Linked DNA regions of Homo sapiens: all the other regions are linked to region 1. Evidence: fine-mapped expression QTL. A gene starts in region 1. Each other region holds a variant in brackets. All regions are shown on one strand. Distances are from middle to middle.

What was found. PIP is the estimated chance that this variant, and not a neighbour inherited with it, causes the effect.
Region 2: its variant is fine-mapped to the expression of BTBD10 in blood mononuclear cells (TOPMed, PIP 0.91).
Region 3: its variant is fine-mapped to the expression of BTBD10 in whole blood (INTERVAL, PIP 0.99).

What each region holds. Positions count from the first base shown.
Region 1 is chr11:13,459,612-13,466,055 of GRCh38, forward strand. BTBD10 (BTB domain containing 10) reads right to left here and starts at 3,611. Exons shown (of 9, transcript NM_032320.7): 1 at 3,481-3,611. RefSeq lists an enhancer at 3,791-3,980.
Region 2 is chr11:13,378,394-13,384,837 of GRCh38, forward strand. It overlaps BMAL1 (basic helix-loop-helix ARNT like 1), which reads left to right. Exons shown (of 20, transcript NM_001297719.2): 17 at 1-52; 18 at 2,768-2,861. Among named protein-coding and RNA genes, the nearest start is that of BTBD10, 82 kb to the right of the region's middle. The variant T/C (reference allele first, on the strand shown) is at 3,195.
Region 3 is chr11:13,564,398-13,570,841 of GRCh38, forward strand. No RefSeq gene overlaps it. Among named protein-coding and RNA genes, the nearest start is that of PTH, 72 kb to the left of the region's middle. The variant G/A (reference allele first, on the strand shown) is at 3,066.

The DNA.
Region 1 (6,444 bases):
AACTAAATCCAACGTGCAAAAACCCTTATTACTTCAACTGCAAATTAAACTTACCCAGTTAGAACTGTAGGCATTCCATTTCCTTCTCCCTCATAGTATTAGTAGTCCAGCCTGCTCAGATAAGCCTACCATACAAATGAATAGACAATGTATAGCCTAAGAATTGAGAGTCCCAAAAATTGAATCATAAGGCACTGAACAAAAGTATACTCAATCCCTTCCCTTAGCCTCCCCTGATCCTCCTTTGGGATGGCAACTCAGGGGATGGGAAGAAGCGGAAAGCTATTTCCAAAAAAGAACTTCCTACTTTATGAGTCATGGTAGAAACAAGTAAAGACGAAAATAATGGTTCCCCCTTCAACAAGCACAATCTTCTCAAATATAAAACAAATTCCTCAGAAGTAGTCTTATAACTCTTCAACAGGAGCACCTCACAAACATAATACATATCTCCTCTTCTTTCATTTCCTATTTCAGAGAGAGGCAGAGATTGAATGAACAGATATTAGCCTAGCTTGGCCTGAGATGACTGAGCTAAAATGAAGAAAAGAAAATCTGCAAATTCCCATAGCAGTCCTGATTAAAAACCAGTATTCTATGTAGTCTCTGCACAAGTTATGATAAATTTAGCCACAAAAGGCAGACCTCTTTTTAAAACTGCACAATACACAAATGGGTACTTAATCATTTCATCTTCCTTTTCAAAATTCTCTCCCTTACCTAACTTCCTCTCTCACCCTTATCCCAAGTGAAGACCCCCAACTTGCCCTCTATATGCCTAAAAAACACCTCTTACTTAGCTTTGACCTCTAGCACTCCCATTCCCCATAACCCAACTAGGTATGAATCAGATTATGTGATTAAATTACTTCACATTAATGGGTAAATGAGGCTTAATCCACAAAGGTCAATTCCACACGTCATTAAACTCTACTATGTATAAGGCACTAAGTTTAATCAATTAATATACCTATCCTTCTTACAAGAAAAACTAACACAAATCAATCTTTTAATGAACAATGTAAGGAAGGGGCACAAGAGTGTTTGCTTCACATCACACTTTCTCCACCCAGTTCTTTCCATCCTGTTGCCAAACCCCTCCAATCTCCATCTGGCATGGAATAAAATCCAAGGGATCAGTATTTCTTCCAGTAAGTCAATGCCTAGGAAGACAATGTGGGATAGCACAGCAAACAATAAACATTCAAATCCTGAAATGGACTGTAGAGGGTCTCTTGTATTTAATTTTATATATTAGCTGCAAATACAATAAAGAGCTTCTAAATAATTCAATTTCTGTACAAGATACCTATAAATCAGCTTTGCTCAGAACTCTGAGTTTTTAAACCATAAATACTGAGATGCTTTTTCTTCAGTTATTTCCACAGTTAAAACGTTTATAGTAAATACCAGTTCAAATTGCCCTACTATAACTATACTTAAAGGCTATTAAACTTAACTACTGTTTTCAATTAGATGTGACATTTTTCCCAAGACCCCTTAAGTTTGAAACTCCAAACTTGCTTTAAACCTCCTTTTTTTCCAGTCATAAAATTTATTAATTTTGATTTATAACAGAGCTTCTAAACTGGAGAGGAGAATACAACTATGGACAGGTTTGGATTTGATTCAGTCACATGATATTTTTAATGGTTTTAATTAGTTGTCAATATTTTTAAGACGCAAGACACTGAATGCAAAAATCTAGATTTCCGAGTTCTCTTGAGAATGCTGAAGATGGGGTCCATATTCTTATATAGCACTGATTAGGGGGACCTGAGACTTGGATGTCTCTCTGATAAGGCATAGTGCATTTCCCTCATTTTCATTATCTAACTAGTACCCGAAGGCATGTGAGTTTGTTGCTCATGCTATGGCTTTGAAAGGTGCACAATATTTTCCATATCACTTCCATACTTCCCTAAGTCACCTATTATAAAAAGCCAAAAGCAGACCACAGTGGTTTGCAACTCCATAGTTAATAATTTAAAAAATTCACATGGCTTAGAGGGAGTGAGAAAGAAGAAAATTCAGACTGGTGGAAGGGTAACATAATTACATAGGGTTAGAAGTCTATCTGAAAGCTTTTCTGGGAGTGAGAAAAAAGGTGAACGAACACAAAAACATTGTTGAAACACTAAAAGCTTTCCTGATTGAACACTGTTACTCTCTGGTGGTTCCTTACCACATTCCATGCTTCAGAAACTTCCTTCCTACTTTGTATGTATTAATATAATAGCTGTTAGGTCATACACGCTGAGAAATATTGGGAAAATTTATAAAACACATTTACATCATCAGAAATAATTCTTCTCACACTTTTTTTTTTTTTTTTTTTACCAGTCTTGGTCCACTTTCAAATCCCTTCCCAAGTATTTTCTACTGCTTTCCGCTTTATATTCAAATGACAACTGCAGTCCTGGGTTTCAGGACTGAACTTCAATCCTGGACAGGCTCTCTAATACAGAAACTCTTTTGGCCGTTATGGCTGCATTCTTTATTATATCTCTTATTCCGATTTCCACAGTCTCTTTCATTGAAAATTTATCCCTAACCCCCTCTCTAAAAGATTTTGATCAAATTTGTGTAGTTGGGGGGTTGGGAGGATAGGGGCGGGAAGGAACTCAGTTGTCCAAATACAATTAATATCCTGTGCTGTTTCATTTAGATTGCTAATTTAAATAAAAAGCATGAAAACTCTGCAAGATAATAAATCTTCGTAAAATAATCTTGTTTACTAAGTGCACAAAGCCACAAGCAAGTGAAGCTCTATCTTTCAGCATGTCTGGACTAGTGACTTTTCATCATGGACTCAGAATACTGAGAAAGGAGAAGCAGGAAATCTGTGAGGCCCAGGGACAGTCACACTGGCCCACACTAACAAATTACTAACCGATGTCTCACCTTCCCCCGCCCCATTCCCAAAGATAAGGGTGTCAGGGCACCTGCATCTGAAGAAGAAAGACATCAGAACCTTTTCCGTGCAAGTTTTAAGAAAACAAAGCTTTACCACACGTAAAATGGTTACAACATAAAACCACGCAGCACGTTAGTGGGGTCTCACTCCTCTTCACCCAGAGGGAGGCTGCCCACCACCTTATCCCCTATTGTGATGCGCCTTCCTCAGGATGTCGCTGCGTTCGTCTGAGATGACAGGAAAGGGGCGGGGCACGGGGTTCCTCTGCCCTGGAAAGGGATGAGGGTATCGCCTTCATCCCCGGAGAAAGGCCCCCGGACTCCCAACCCAAAAGCAGCAGCCGCAAAACTCAAGTCTTATCCCGGCCTCTCCTAATTGGGTGCTCGTGGCCGGAGCCCAAAACGCCACCCACGGTACCCGAGCAGGGTCCGGCCGCCCAGACCACCGCCGCAGCAGCCTGGCTCTCACGCCCAGATTCGCCCTCCGCCCCTTTCCTCTTTCGCCCCGGCCAAGCCCAGCCTCCCGCGCCGCCCCCGCCGAGTTCCCCAGCTGAGTCCACTCACTCTCGAACCTGTAGTCCCCCTTCAGTGCCCACACAAGATTGGGGCAAAGGCCGGGGCCAGTGACACCTCCACTTCCTCCTCAGCCAGATCCCTCCGGAGGTGGCTGTGGAGGAAGCCACTGAGGCGGCTGCGCGTAGCGGAGCCGCCCCGGCAGGTTGCAGGCCGGCTCCTCAGCCTCTTACCGCGAGAGCTCACAATGCGAAGAGGCGAGGCCAGCAGCGTTCTCGCGAGAACGGTGCTCTCCGCCCAGGGGTGGGCGGGGCACCGAAGGAGAAGGCAGTTGAGGGCGCGGCGGCCACGGGTGGGATCTCAGGCGCGTGGAGAGGAAGGCGCCGCGCGACCTCTCCTCACAGACATCAGCTCGGGTCAACCGCGGGCCTCGAGCCCGAGTGGCTGAGGGCTGTTACCTTCAAACCTTTGAATCCCACGTTTTCCCCTTGACTTCCTGTCACCGTTAGAGAAAAGTGGACAGCGTCTCGGTCACAGAGTTGGAGAAATAGTGCAGGGACTCTTCAGGGAGAGCGTTTTCCTCATCAAAGCAAACTGCAAAATCGCTTCTGCCGGCGTGGACCTGATGAGAGTCGGTCGTCGTGAGGGACACCCTCTGTTCCCTAACGTCCCCCGCTGCTTATTTTTAAACGCTCGGTTGGCGGGAACCCCTGTGCCAGCTGAAACTCCTTCAGTTTGGCCGCCTAGGAAACACCGAGAGTCACCTACATGGGCTGGCTGGGCAATAAAAACGGGAAAAAATGTAAAAGACACAGTCTCCGCCTTCGAAGCTTACACCCCCGGGGCAAGACCTACAGGAAAATAGATAATCCCATTATTCTCTGATAAAAGCCGAGCTGCTTGCCATGAGCTCTGGGAGCAGACGGGGAGGCCTTGTTGAGAAAGCCTTCACCTGGGAGTGACAATTGCGCTGAATCTTAAGCATAAGTAAGTTCTCCAGTTTAGGGAAGAGAGGGAAGGGCATTGCAAGGAGAGGAAGCAAAGAGGAAGAGGACCTGGTTTGAGTAATTGGGTATGAAAACAGATATTGCAGCAAGAACTTTGTTGAAAAACCTTTAACCACTGTTTAGTTCGGATGAGAACATTCCCAGGCTCCTACGTGTGATACGCAAAGTATTTTCCAAATCAGTGTTTATGCTAAGAAGATGAGCAGTTGAGCTGGACAATTATAAGATAACTTCATCTTTCTCCTGTAAGGACACTTAAATATCAGAAACCTAAGAGAAACGGGTTATTGTCGTAATTCACTAAGTTATTATAGCCAACATTTTGCTAAATTGGAAATTGCCAATAATTTCAAGTTGTCTACATAAGAGCAATCTAATAGGAATTTTGTGATACAGTTTCTCAGAGAAACTCTGAGAAAATTCTCAGGCAAAAAACAAAAACGTCATCAGTCCTGATTTATTATCAAAATTTTCTCCTATAAGCTCTGCTCAGAAGAAGTCATTCTGTAGTCCAAGTTAGGGCTAATGAGGAGCCATACTCTTACATCAAAATAGAAGCTGTCCTTTTCTAAAGAAAGACTCTGGTATTTTGCTGTAGTTTCCACTCACCTTCCTTTGGACACATTATTTTCATATTACATATAAAAATATGTATACTATATGAAAAATACTATGTATACTATAGTTTTATTTGGCTTACCATACTCTCCCTACGAATAAGCCCAACACTTAGGAGGAAAACAAAAAAGTTATTCTAACCCTGCTGATACGGTTTGGATCTATGTCCCCACCTGACCTCTCATGTGGAATTGTAATCCCCAGTGTTGGAGGTCGTTGGATCATGGGGGCAGATTTCCCTGTTTTTGCCATTCTGGTGATAGTGAGTTCTGGTGAAATCTGTTCTTTAAAAGTGTGTGGCGCCCCCCCACCCCCGCCCCACTCCTCCCACCATATAAGACGTGCCTGCTGTACCTTGGCTTTCTGCCATGATTGTAAGCTTCCTGAGGCCTCCCCAGAAGCCCAGCAGAAGCCGTCGGACTTCCTGTACAGCCTGCGGAGCCGTGAGCCAGTTAAACCTCTTTGTTTTATAGCAGTGCAAGAATGGACTAATGCACCTGCCATAGGCCAATTGGGTGTTCTGTTAAGCATAATTTCACATCAAGTTCTTGGAATTTTCCAGGAAGCATTAGAAGAATCATATGAATGAAAGACTTCAGGCAAAATATGGAAACTTTGTTCCATGCTGGAATCTGTTCAAACCATCATATCCTACTTGGATGGGTCCTGGAGCTCATTTCATTCTGCTGTTCTTCAAAAACAAAAGAGAATGGGAGTTGGGAGAAAATAGAAAATCGAATAAAGTTTCTACTGTTCTTTGCTTTAAAAGAAAATTAATCGGCCGGGTTCGGAGGCTCGCGCCTGTAATCCCAGCATTTTGAAAGGTCGAGGCGGGCAGATCACGGGGTCAGGAGATCCAGACCATCCTGGCTAACATGGTGAAACCCCGTCTCTACTAAAAATACAGAAAATTACCCGGGGGTGGTGGCAGGCGCTTGTGGTCCCAGCTACTTGGGAGGCTGAGGCAGGAGAATGGTGTGAATCCGGGAAGCGGAGCTTGCAGTGAGCAGAGCTTGTGCCACTGCACTCCAGCCTGGGCGACAGAGCGAGACTCCGTTTCAAAAAAAAAAAAAGAGATAATTAACCTTTCAAATATTAAGGTAGTAGCACAGTAGCACTGGTAACAGTTATACATTTGGTAGGTAATGCCATAGATTTAGATAATCACAAATCTGCTCTACACGATAATTTGTAAATGCTAGCTGACTGCATAGGCTAAGGTTCAGAACTTTAATGAAAGTCTTTCTTCCACACACCAAAGAGGTCCATACAGAAAGAGAAGTTTCATATAGTAGCAGTGAACAAACAAGGTCGTTTGGTAGTTTGTGTTATAGCATGCTAAGGCAATATTGTTTCAAAGCAGATAAGACCACAGACCCAGAATCCTATT
Region 2 (6,444 bases), 81 kb before region 1:
GGGCAGGAAAAATAGGCCGAATGATTGCTGAGGAAATCATGGAAATCCACAGGCAAGTAACACCTTCTAGTTCCTCTGTTAAACCAGTGGTTCTCAACCCAGGGAAATTTTTTCCCCCAGGCAATATTTTGCAATGTCAGGAGACATTTTTGGTCTTCACAACTGGGTGGGAGGTTGCTACTTAAACATCCTGTGGATAGAGACCAGGGATGCTGCTTGTTAAACATCCTACAGTAAACAGGACAGTTCCCTCCTCCCCACCCAACAAAGAATTATCCAATCCAAAATGTTAGTAGTGCCTAGATTAAGAAATCCTGCCTTAAATAAAGAAGCTAAACCAAAATAGCCCAGCGCTAAAGAGAATTCTTGAGAAGACTTAACTTTCTTATGGCTCAAGGAGCTTCTCAGTGCGGATAGATGTACCTTTACTTTACAGGAATGCAGGAGTAGAGCTGTGAACTATCAGAGTGATCTGGACCTTAACAAAACATTCACTTTTTTTCAATCAAAGAGCTGCCCAGGATTAGTACTAGAAACCAAGCAGATCAGCTAGTTATTACTAGCTGTCTTGGGAGAGACTTCCTTTCCATATGAAAGAGAAGGAGCTTAGAAGCAGTCCACCTGGGTCTGAGTCCTGGGCCTGTCTCTCTACCTGGCTATGCTGAGACTTACTTAACCTCTTGCTCTCTGTTGATTTAAACCATAAAAAGAAAGCACTATTTCCCAAGAATTGTGTTAGGATTGTGAGGGCACTCAGGAAAGTTCCAGGAACACAGCCTGACATATAGTGAGTGCTTAAAAATTAATTAAATCTGTCTTTAAGAGCAGTCGAGAGGGAAGCAGTTATCATAAGTCTGTCCAAATTTGGGGAATAGAGAAGGTGGTAACCAGATTCTTCAGAACGAAACTTAATGTAACATAAGAAAAGGAAGAAAACACTGCTGCCGCTGGATTCTCTCAGGAGAATTAGAGGCTGGCCTGTTTTCCAATTGGCCATAAAGGGGCTGTTATCCCCCTATAGGTAACACAGCTCTTTTCCAACCCCACAGGATTAGTGGGTGTGACTTCTGCATCAGGAAGGAGACATGAGGGTAGTGTGCAGTGTAATCAGGTTCAAACCCTATACTTTGCATTTGCATACCCTGTATTTTGCTTGAGACCATCCAAGAACAGTATCAAACAGTCCTTGACCTCAAGAATTTTAAAATCTTTTATAAGTCTATTTTCTTTATGATAACAGGAAAAAGGGAGGGTGCATGGGCCAAAGCAAGCAAAAGAGGAAAGATTTGAACTTGGCCTTAGCCAGGGTTTGCAATAAGAGTGGATGTTCCCTCTAGAAAAGCCAGGGCTATTCTTGAGTGGGCATGTGAGTGGCAAATTCAGGGTCAAGAAACAAGCTACCTAACTGGGCAGGCTTTGTGTAGGAAGGAGACACAGAGCTATGATAGGCGATTAAGAAACACAAGAAATGATACTGTGCAGTTTGGAAGAAACCTGTAAGACCCCATTTGTTGTAGGATGCTGAACAAGCATCCAAAGTCTTGTGTTACGCTTTGTGGAAGTTGCATTGGAATAGGGAGAGATGAAGGTGGGCATGTTTGACAACTCAGGAATGAGGCCTTATCCTACAGAGATGACACTGCCAAAAGAGAAATCAATCATCTAAGGTCTAGCGTTTGAAGATGAAATCAGGAATGATGAAACAGCAATTCCAAGATGAGAAACCTGGGAAAATAGTGGTTTCATAGACATAAGTAGAGAAAGGTGGGGGACACTCAGCAATTTTTCCGTAAGCAATTAGCAGCCGTTTGTGCATGCTGAGAATACATGATATGTAGTTGTAAACTGCCGTTAAGAAGCTTCTAATCCAGAAAGAAAACTTGTTCACTCATAAATCTAGAGAACTAGGCAGTACAAGAACCAAAAGACTTCTGGGTGGTGGAGGAGTGGTCTCTGGGTCACCCAAAAGCTACATTCATCCATGTAGGAGCTGAGAGTCCTGTGGTTACACAACTGCCATCACACTCTCCCTAAACTGTAGCTGCAATGCCAAGTGATGGATTCTTTCCTGAGGTCCTTCAGCCTGACAAGTATTTAGGTGGATTTACAGTTCTAAGTCTTCCCTTCTATAAATCTTCTGAGAGATATGCTAGATAAGAAAGGCCTGGACCCATTTTTCATCAACCACTGCCTTCGAAGGCTGCTTTTCCTGTCACTACTACTAGGCTACCTTTTAGACCCTGGTGCCGTCCATGTCCTAAGAGTATTCACTAGCTAAACAGTGTTTGTGGAGAAGGGGACAAATTGTTTTCTGTGGATCAAAGATGGAGGTTGATCTTAGAAGTTCTCCTCCAATTCACCTGGATTCTGTGAGGAAATAAAACTGGCCACTTACTTGAAATTCACCAACTGAATGCAAACTCCAATCCAAGGGCTTTGTCAGTGAGATGCTTGACTCTAGGGACTGCATTCTAGATCAGGTGCCTGTAGAACAAATCCAGCTTGTCATCTGTTTTTGTAAATAAAGTTTTATTGGAACACAGCCACACCGATTCGTATCTGTGGCTGCTTTCAAGCTGCAGAGGCAGAGTTGAGCATTTGTGACAAGACACCATATGGCCTAGAGAGCCTACTATCTGGCCCCTTACAGAAAAAGCTTGCCAAACCCTAATCTAGATCTTCATCCCCTTTCTCACCTTTACCCCTTAACAAAGCACATACACTCCACTGAAAAAAGAAAAGGCAGTGTAATTCTCTTTTCTGACAGGATAAGAGGGTCATCGCCTTCTAGCTGTGGCTCCAGCCCATTGAACATCACGAGTACGCCTCCCCCTGATGCCTCTTCTCCAGGAGGCAAGAAGGTAAGACTGATGATTCTTAGCCTAAGCTAGAGAACCTCTTGCCCAAGATCTGAAATGTTGGGGGTGGGAGTATGGAATTGCAACTGCGATTGCTGAAACAATTTGGACTACTTCCTCCTTGAAGTAAATGCATCTGTGTGAGGCTGGATACAAAGCATACTGGTAGGGCTAGGGAGGCTTGCTGACATCCTCAGAGGCTTTCTTCCATGTGAGTGGAAGAAGGGAGAAAGAATAAGGAATGGGGAACTGTCAGTTCATTTAATTGAGGGAGCAATTCAAGAGTTCCCATGAGGGAAAGATTATTGAGTACCTCACATAGAAAAGTTTCTCATT[T/C]TCTGCCAGGAATTTTCAAGGGAGAAAATATTAGTGTCTAGGGCAGGCAATGGAAACAGCAATGCCACCAGCAGTGCTTTGGAAATCAAGCCATGCTTTATAGCTGCAGAATACTTGGGGATCTGCTGCCTGGGGGTTCCATTGGTGTGACAGCATTGGATCCAAGCAGTGGATCAATCACCAGCCCTCATGAAGAGCTTGCTATAAGACTACACTATAAATAGGTTTAGGAACCAGTCATTTGTTTTCATCTTTGCTGGAGAACTTATAAGCCTAGGCCCATCTTAATCGTAAATTATAAATCTGTTTATATTGCCTGATGCCAGTAGAGCTTAGGACAGTTTAAAGGCCATCATTTTGGACACAATGGCTTCCTTTCCCCATCTCCTAAAACAGAGAGAGAGAATATCAGGAATTTCCATAGGCAGGACTCCTAGGGCACAAACCATCAAAAGCAGGGCAAGGATTTTCAAAACTGAGCTCCTCGGAGGTTTGTTCAGGTTACCAAGAGCTGTGGTGTTACCAGGTGGGATGGGCGTGGGGATAGTTGCTAAGGAGAGAGGGTAAGAGTAGAAATCCTGCTTCTACAAGGGCAGCAATACTTCTTTTTTATACAGGAATCTTCTGCAAACATTTCTATTTGAAAAAGCGTTTTGCTCCCCCCAAAAAAGGTTGAAAGTTAACAAATTAATGGGTAAGACTACAAAGTAAGACCTGGGTTCGAAGCTTGGCCTTGCCATGTGCTAGTTATGTGAACTTGTACAACTTTCAAGCCCTAGTTTTCTTTATAATGGAGCTAATAATGGTTAGGGTAGCCAGCATCTTTGCACGAGGTCCTACTGTGAGATAATATATGTGAAAGTGCTTGGCCCAAAATACCACTGACAGATGAAGTCTGAGCTTGGTGTCCCGTGACCCCCGCCCCCCTGCCCACAACACACACACTGCTTGCCAGCTGTCTTCTTAGCTGTTCTTCTGTTATACCTCCAGGTCCTTCCTGCATATTGGATCCACCATCTTCTTAGGGTGGTCTTCCAGTCTCTGCTTCTTAAGTTAACTTTTAGGCACTTGACTTGACTCCTGGTATTACCAAGGATTCTACTTCTTGGTTTTGAAAGGTTATCAGTCCAGTATAGGCTTAAATATTACTCAAAGAACTTTCATATACATTGTCTCATCTCACCTTCACAACATTATAGTGACAAGATCCAGGCTCCTCAGCGTTCGTTTTATAAGTATGGCCCCCAGGCTACAATCCTGGGCTCATGGCTTCCAATTCTTTTCACATCAACAACTACCAGAAATCAAAAGCTGTGCTCTGCATCATAAAGCCCCAGCTATTTTTGAGGCACTTATGAAAATTCTCCCTTTTCTTTGAGAAGAATGGATTATAAAATGGATCTGTGAGAAGAAATTTGGATGTGTTCTCACGAGATGAGTCCTGGGCAGCAGGACTTATAAGAAAAGCAGCTTAAACAAGACAGTTAAAACTGACAGCAGTATTAAATGGTGCACCATACCCAGCCCTTTCCAGTCACTTTCAAATTTGGAAGGTCCAAAAATGAACCATTTAGCCTGCAGTTGTTTGTCAGGATCAAGCTAAAAAGGAAGCCTAAGTGAGCCTCCATAGGTCGCAAGAGAGTACAGACATCCAGAAGCACTAAGGAAAATTCAGATAAAGCAGCAGTTCTACAAATGTCATCTGCAGTCTTTTTCCAGAAAGAGAGGGGGCACAAGATCCTTTTAAGGGTCTGCAAGGTTAAAGCTATTTTCTTAATAACATTAAAACGTTAATTTTTTCCCTGTATTGATAATGTGCACTATTCATACTAAAAGCACGGTTGGGTAAAATTGCTGGCATTTTACAAAAATCAGACAAGTGGCACCAAACTATACTAGTAGTCATTGTATTCTTCACCACCACACACTCACAGTAAAAAAATAGTTTAAAGCCAGTTTCATTTAAGATTGTCCATCATGGCTAGGTGCAGTGGCTCACCCCTGTAATCTCAGCACTCTGGGAAGCTGAGGCAGGCAAACTGCTTGAGTCCAGCAGTTCCAGGCAAGTCTGGGCAACATAGAGAAATCCCATCTCTACTAAAAAATACAAAAAAAATTATCCAGGTGTGGTGGTGTACCTGTAATCCCAGCTACTCCGGGGACTGAGGTGGGAGAATCACCTGAGCCCAGGAGGTTGAGGCTGCAGTGAGCTGAGATTGTGCCACTGTACTCCAGCCTGGGCAACCAGAGTGAGACCCTATCAAGGAGGGAAGGAGGAAAGGAAGGAAGGGAGTGAGGGAGGGAGGGAAAATGTCCATCATTACTTTTATAAAATTCTCAAGCACACATCTTTTTAATGCTCTGTGACAAAATGAGAAGTACACAGAACTTGTGCTGCATACCAAAGTATGATGTTTGTCTCAAAAACTACTTGTGTGATTAAGTTGTGAGTTGAACTAGCTACTATTTTCATTGGACACCATTTTTATTGTATATGGTCATTCGGTTTTGGGTATTTAGAATACTTTTTTTTTGGAAATGAATGAAGTGAACCTGTCACTTTAAGGAAAATGACTGACATTTGTTGCCAATGATAAAATCTGAGCTTTCAAGCAAAAATTGGAATTTTTAGAAAACTTGTCTCTGCTACTTTGACCTTGAGATCTTCCTAAAACTTAAAAAATGTTGTTGATGAGATAGGGAGTATTAATAATAGTGATATTTTGATGCTCTATAATGAAATGTGTCAATATATAGAAGATCTGCATAACTCAGTGAACCAATATTTTGTAACTAAACAATGCAAGGTATTTCAAAATCATGTAAGGGTAAAAGATCCATCCTAAGTGCCAAGATATAAAGAGTACAAAACATTCATTGATATGGTTTCAGATTCCACATTGCAACTCACCTTTAAGAAACTTCTACGTGTCAAGTTTTGAAGTGGTATCAAAAAAGAATACAATTATTTGAAAAGTCTATTAAAATATGCCTCCCTTTTCCAACTACTTATCTGTGGGAGGTTGGATTTCCTTCATATACTTGAATCACAAGACGTATCTAAATAGACTGAATGGAAAAACATATATGAGAATCCAGTTGAAAATTATTAAGCCAGACATTAGATTTGCAAAAATGTAAGATAATACTCTGCCTGGTAATTTTTTGTTACTGTTTTAGAAAATAGTTATTTTTCATTAAAATACTATTCATTATTTATGTTAACATGTAGCGGGTTTATTACATTTAA
Region 3 (6,444 bases), 100 kb after region 1:
GAACAAATAATGTTTCTTTTCGCTGAGTGTGGTTGAAGAGAGGGAACTGTTCATTCAGTTTTTACAATGAGTATTTGAGCATACCTGTGAGATTAAGCATAGGTAGACTGAGCAACAGTAGTTTTTCCTCTAGGAATCCTGGATTTGGCATCCAGTGATGTAATTTCAAATCCTAGCATCACCACTTATAATCCATTGTAGCCTTTGGCAAATTACTAAAACTCTTCAAGCCTCTCATAGAGTAGTACGAAGATGAAATCAGGTAATATAAATGCATTTGGCCCAGCTCCTGACTTATAGATAGCATTTATTGTTGCTTAAATAAGAACTTCTTTGGCAATTCTTGCTAACTCAATTCATCAAGTAACCATAAAGAGCATATAAGTCCAGATCTGAGTTTAAGCCCTTACTCTACCACTTAGCTACACTAAGTAGCTGTACAATCATTAGACACTTGGGAGCCTGGTATTTCTCATATTTCTAATAAGGGGATTGGGTTGGATGATGTCTAACAATCCTCACAGCCCTAAGGGTCCTCATATCCCTAATTGTCCATGTCATTCTTGAGCACCTTTTCTCTGTGAGGCAAAGGTAGGCAAACCTTAAAAAGAAACTGTCTAGAGTCAGAATGAGCTGAATTGACACAGCAAACTGGAAGTTGGGGAAGAAAGAAAAAAAGAGAAAAACAAGAATCTGGAACATTCCTGCTCAGTTTTGGACCTGAAGATCTATTCTTTTTCCTGATCAAACTATCTTGCTTAGTATTCTCTGCCAGGGACATATCTCAGTCATCACTTAGGACTCCTTGGACTGACAGGTGGAGAAACCAAGCACACAAGGCATTATATCTGAAGGACGAGCTCAGCCATAATCCAAGTAGACTTTTGAGGGCCCCATCAGTCAAGCTACAGTCACCAGACAGGGAACAGATACGAAGTCTCCAGGAAGAGGGCATTGGCAAGAGTAAGGCAGTGTAGCTGGAGTTCAGGCTGAGAGGAGGGAACACCACAGCTCAGGGGCATCAAAATGGATCACTGGAATGTATTGTCTTTGGAGATTTGAGAGCAACCCAGAGACTCATTAAACTATATTAGGATTCCTGGATTGGGAAGATAAATGTTACTAAATCCTTTCAGATATGTATATTTGATATTATTTCATAATTCTTTAATCTTATAAAGTTTGGGAACTAAGGCAGAACAGATCTTGGGTCAGACCATATGCACAAGATATCAGCGGAAGAACTGGGGAGGACAAAGGGAGGAGAAGCAACACCACTGTGCTGGGAAATAGAAGTCAAATGACATACCTTTTAGACTATGTAAGGCCCTAGACTTTCAGCCAGTTCCAGAAGAGTAGGAAGCTCTACCAAGAGATCTTGAACCTTCTGTTAATCTAGAGGATGCGGATAGCTATTTACTTGGGGGAAAAAAAAACAAAAAACAAAAACACAGACCATCACTCTATTTATATGCTGATCTGTGGGGCAGTTTATACTATACACATAATGGAATGCTGCAAAACAGATTTTTTTATTTTTATTTTTTTATTTTTTTTTTGAGATGGAGTCTCGCTCTGTCCCCAGGCTGGAGTGCAGTGGCACAATCTCGGCTCACTGCAACCTCCGCCTCCTAGGTTCAAGCGATTCTCCTGCCTCAGCCTCCTGAGTAGCTGGGACTACAGGCACGCACCACCATGCCCAGCTAATTTTTGTATTTTTAGTAGAGACAGGGTTTCACCATGTTGGCCAGGAAGGTCTCAATCTCCTGACCTCGTGATCCACCCACCTTGGCCTCTCAAAGTGCTAAGATTACAGGCGTGAGCCACCGTGCCCAGCACAGAACAAATTTTTAAAATGATGATACAGACATACATTTATACATTTACTTCATGGAAAGATCTCTACAACATACTATTGAGAGGGAAAAAGCAAGTTATAAAGCAGCATATATAAAGCAGCATGATCCCATTTATGTACAATGAGTCACAAGATCAGTAATAAGTATGTCCTCTTCATTTGGCTGGGTATAACATAAATTCAAATTTCCTTTACTGTTCAAATTATAACGCTAGTTCTATTCTACTCAGCTCAGCAGAAAATAGTTTTCCTTAATGACGTTCTTTCATGTCAATTTTGTTTCACATCTCTTTTCATGAAACCAACTTTTAGTTTCTTTCTTTTTTTTTTTTCTTGAGACAGGTCTCCCTCTGTCTCAAGGCTGGACTACAGTGGCATGACAATAGTTCACTGCAACCTTGATCTCTTGGGCTCAAGGGATCCTTCCATCTCAGCCTCCCAAGTAGATGGGACTACAGGTGCATGCCACCATGTCCAGCTTATTTTTTCTTTTTAGTAGAGACAAGGTCTTGCTGTGTTGCCCAGGCTGGTCTTGAACTCCTTGAGCTCAAGTGATCCTCCCAACTGGGCCTCTCAAAGTGCTGAGATTACAGGTGTAAACCACCTCACCCAGCCTAATCTTTATTATTTTCTTCCTTCTACTAGCTTTGGGTTTAGTTTGCTGGAATGTACAAAGTTAGATTATTCCTTATATAACAGAATTCTTTTTTTCTTTTTTTTGAGATGGAGTCTCGCTCCAAATGACAGAACTCTTAAATGAGTTGTCTAAGTGAGCACACTTTGTCATTGCTAGGAGAACTTGAGGGTTCAAATGTACCACTACTTTCCAAAGTAGCCCTTGACTTCCCAAATTATAGCTCTTTAGGGGCGGATTCTTCCATTGTTCACATACACAACACTCACTAGATCACAAGATTTCCCTCATAAAAACCGAAATAGTGCAGAGGTTGATATCTACTGCCCATAGATTCTAAATCTTCCTAACCCTAACTTCAGTGAAGAAGCCAGACCACTGCCCACTCTGTTTTGATGGTCATAGGCACTGTTGTCTGAAAGACCAGTTGACTGCCACACTAAATAAGTGAATATCAAAGAAGGATATGAAACTCATCCCTCTTGGAGGCACCAGTGGAGCTTACTGTAATTTTTCCTCCTGTGCTATAAATTTCAGATTCTGCACATCACACATGTACGAAGAAATATGACC[G/A]GAAGGATTTTTCACTAAAATGCTAACAGTCATGGAATAATTTGGGGGATTTATTTTATTTTTTTAAATTTGTTATATTGTTGAATTTTTAGAACAATGAAGATATGTAATTTTTATAATTAGAAGAGTAATAAACAGCTAGCACTTATTAATCACTTGCTATCCACAAACATTTTACACCTGATCCTTCACAGGACCTCTATAAGGTACATACTGTTGCTATCCTCATTTACCAATAAAGAAACTGAGACAGAAACAGATCAAGTAATTTGCCTGAGTCACACAGCTGAGAAGTGGCAGAGCCAGGGTACAAACCTAGATAGTCTGTTTTCATTTTTTTTTTCCTTTTAGAGACAGAGCCTTACTCTATCACCCAGGCTGGAGTGTGGTGGTGCAATCACAGCTCACTGCAGCCTCATCCTCCTGGGCTCAAGTGATCTTCCCATCTCAGCCTCCTGAATAGCTGGAACTACAGGTGTGCACCAGCATGCCCAGCTAATTTTTTAATTTTTTGTAGAGATAGGGTCTCACTATGTTGCCCAGACTGGTCTCAAATCCCTGGGTTCAAGTGATCCTCCTGTCTCAGCCTCCCAAAGTGCTGGGATTACAGGCATGAGCCACCATGCTTAGCCTGTTTTACCTACTATGTTTATTGTATAAAGATTTTTTACTTGAGGTAAGGAGAAGTAAACTAGTAAGAATCCAAAGATGAATATATAAAGTATATGCTCAATACATTAATGTTACATTTTGAGGGGGTTACATTCTGGTTGTGCCAAAGGGTATATTTCAGGATCTTGCCACATTACCATCACTGATAAAAGTCTACCAAGTATTTAAGTGCTACTGTAGCCCATTCTCAATCATGATCAAATGCATGAAGAAATGTTCTTTGCTATTCAAATTTATTTTGCTTGGGGCAAACCTAAAAATGATCACTAAGCAGACACTGCTAAATAACAGATCTACAAATAACATTCTGGCACAAAGCAAGTTGCAGCTTTGTTGAGAAGCACCAGCTAGCAAGGCTAGTTTTAGAAATGATTAAGAAAACAGGTATGATTATATAGTCGGTCATATTTTAAAGCAAATGTAGATGAGCAGGAAGGTGAGGTGAACAAGGGGCTGGCACAGTCCAGTGACTGAGTGAGTAACACTAAGAGGTGGATCACTAACAGATGGTAATGGGCTTAGATGGCCAGATGTACTTAACAGTGTAGTTAGGCACAGACAGTAAGCACTTCTGAGCCAGAGAAGTTGACTTCTGTACCTTCAAGCTCCAAACCTTCTGCTCATTGTACACTAACATACTGTGTTTCATAGGCTAGCAATGCCAACTGTTGTAGAAAAATATTGATGAAAGTAATTGAAAATTCTAACAAAACCTAATTCCATGTTATAGCTAAATTAATACATTAGTATAGTCTCCTCCTTGGTGTAATAATTTCTCAAGAATATATTCCATTAAAGCCCTAGTATACTTATGCCACCTCCTCTATGTCACTAATTCTCCACTAGGTCTCTTTCTGCTTCCAGAAAAACTGTTATGCACAGAAAACTTGGATGTACACAATCCAATCTGAGTTATATTAACATAATGGCATTAAACAAACTCACATCCATTAGGATGGCTACTATCAGGAAAAGAAAAAAAACAAAAAACAAAGATAAAAAGTGTTGGCAAGGATGTGGTGAAATCAGAAGTCTGTGCCCGATTGGTGGGATTGTAAAATGGTACAACTGCTGTGGAAAACAGTGTGGCGGTTCCTCAAAAAATTAAAAATAGAACTACCATATGATCCAAGGGTCTTGAAAAGATATTTGTACACCCATGGTCATAAGCAGCACAATTCAAAATAGACAAGCGGTGGAAGCAAACCAAATGTCTCTCAACAGATGAATGCATAAATACAATGTGGCGTATACATACAATGCAATATTATTTAGCCTTAAAGAGGATGGAAATCCTGTCACATGCTGTAACATGGATGAACCTGAAGGATATTATTTTAAGTGAGACAAGCCAGTCACAAGAACATAAACACGGTATGATTCTACTTACATGAGCTATCTGCATTATTCAAATTCATTGAGACAGAAAGTAGAATGGTGGTTACCAGGGGCTGGACAGACGGGGAAGAGGTAGGTTGTTGTTTAAGGAGTATATGGTTGCAGATTTGCAAGACAAAAAAGTTTTTGAAATCTGATTCACAATAGTATGAGTATACTTAACACCACAGAACTTTATTCTGAAAAATGGTTAAGATGGTAAATGTTATGTTTTTTACCATAATATGTTTTAAAAACTTCACAAAAAATCAAAATGTTAAACATAAAAGAAAATGGATTAATTAGACTTGATAAAAGTTAAAAATACATTGGTCCATACCAAGATGTCCAAATAGGAAGAGCTCTGGTCTGCAGCTCCCAGCGTGATCGATGCAGAAGATGGGTGATTTCTGTATTTCCAACTGAGGTACCTGGTTCATCTCATTGGGACTGGTTGGACAGTGGGTGCAGCCCAGAGAGGGTGAGCCGAAGCAGGGTAGGGCATTGCCTCACCCGGGAAGTGCAAGAGGTCAGGGGATTTCCATTTCCTGGCCAAGGGAAACTGTGATAAGGTATACCTGGAAAAACAGGATACGCCAACCCAAATACTGCACTTTTCCCATGGTCTTAGCAACTGGCAGACCAGGAGATTCTCTCCCATGCCTGGCTCAGCAAGTCCCACGCCTATGGAGCCTTGCTCACTGCTAGCACAGCAGCCTGAGATCAACCTGTGAGGCTGCAGCCTGGCGGGGGAGGGGTGTCCACCATTGCTGAGGCTTCAGTAGGTAAACAAAGCTGCTGTGAAGCTCGAACTGGGCAGAGCCCACCGCAGCTCAGCAAGGCCTACTGCCTCTCTAGACTCCACCTCTGTGGGTAGGGCATAGCTGAACAAAAGGCAGCAGAAACTTCTGCAGACTTAAATGTCCCTGTCTGACAGCTCTGAAGAGAGCAGTTGTTCTCCCAGCATGGTGTTTGAGCTCCGAGAATGGATAGACTGCCTCGTCAAGTGGGTTCCTGACCCTCGTGTAGCCTGACTGGGAGATGCCTCCCAGTAGTGGCTGGCAGATGCCTCATACAGGCGGGTGCCCCTCTGGGATGAAGCTTCCAGAGGAAGGATTGGGCAGCAATATCTGCTGTTCTGCAGCCTCTGCTGGTTTTACCCAGGCAAACGGTCTGGAGTGGAACTCCAGCAAACTCCAACAGAACTGCAGCTGAGGGACCTGACTGTTAGAAGGAAAACTAAAAACAGAAAGAAATAACATCAACATCAACAAAAAGGACATCCACACCAAAACCCCATCTATGGGTCACCAACATCAAAGACCAAAGG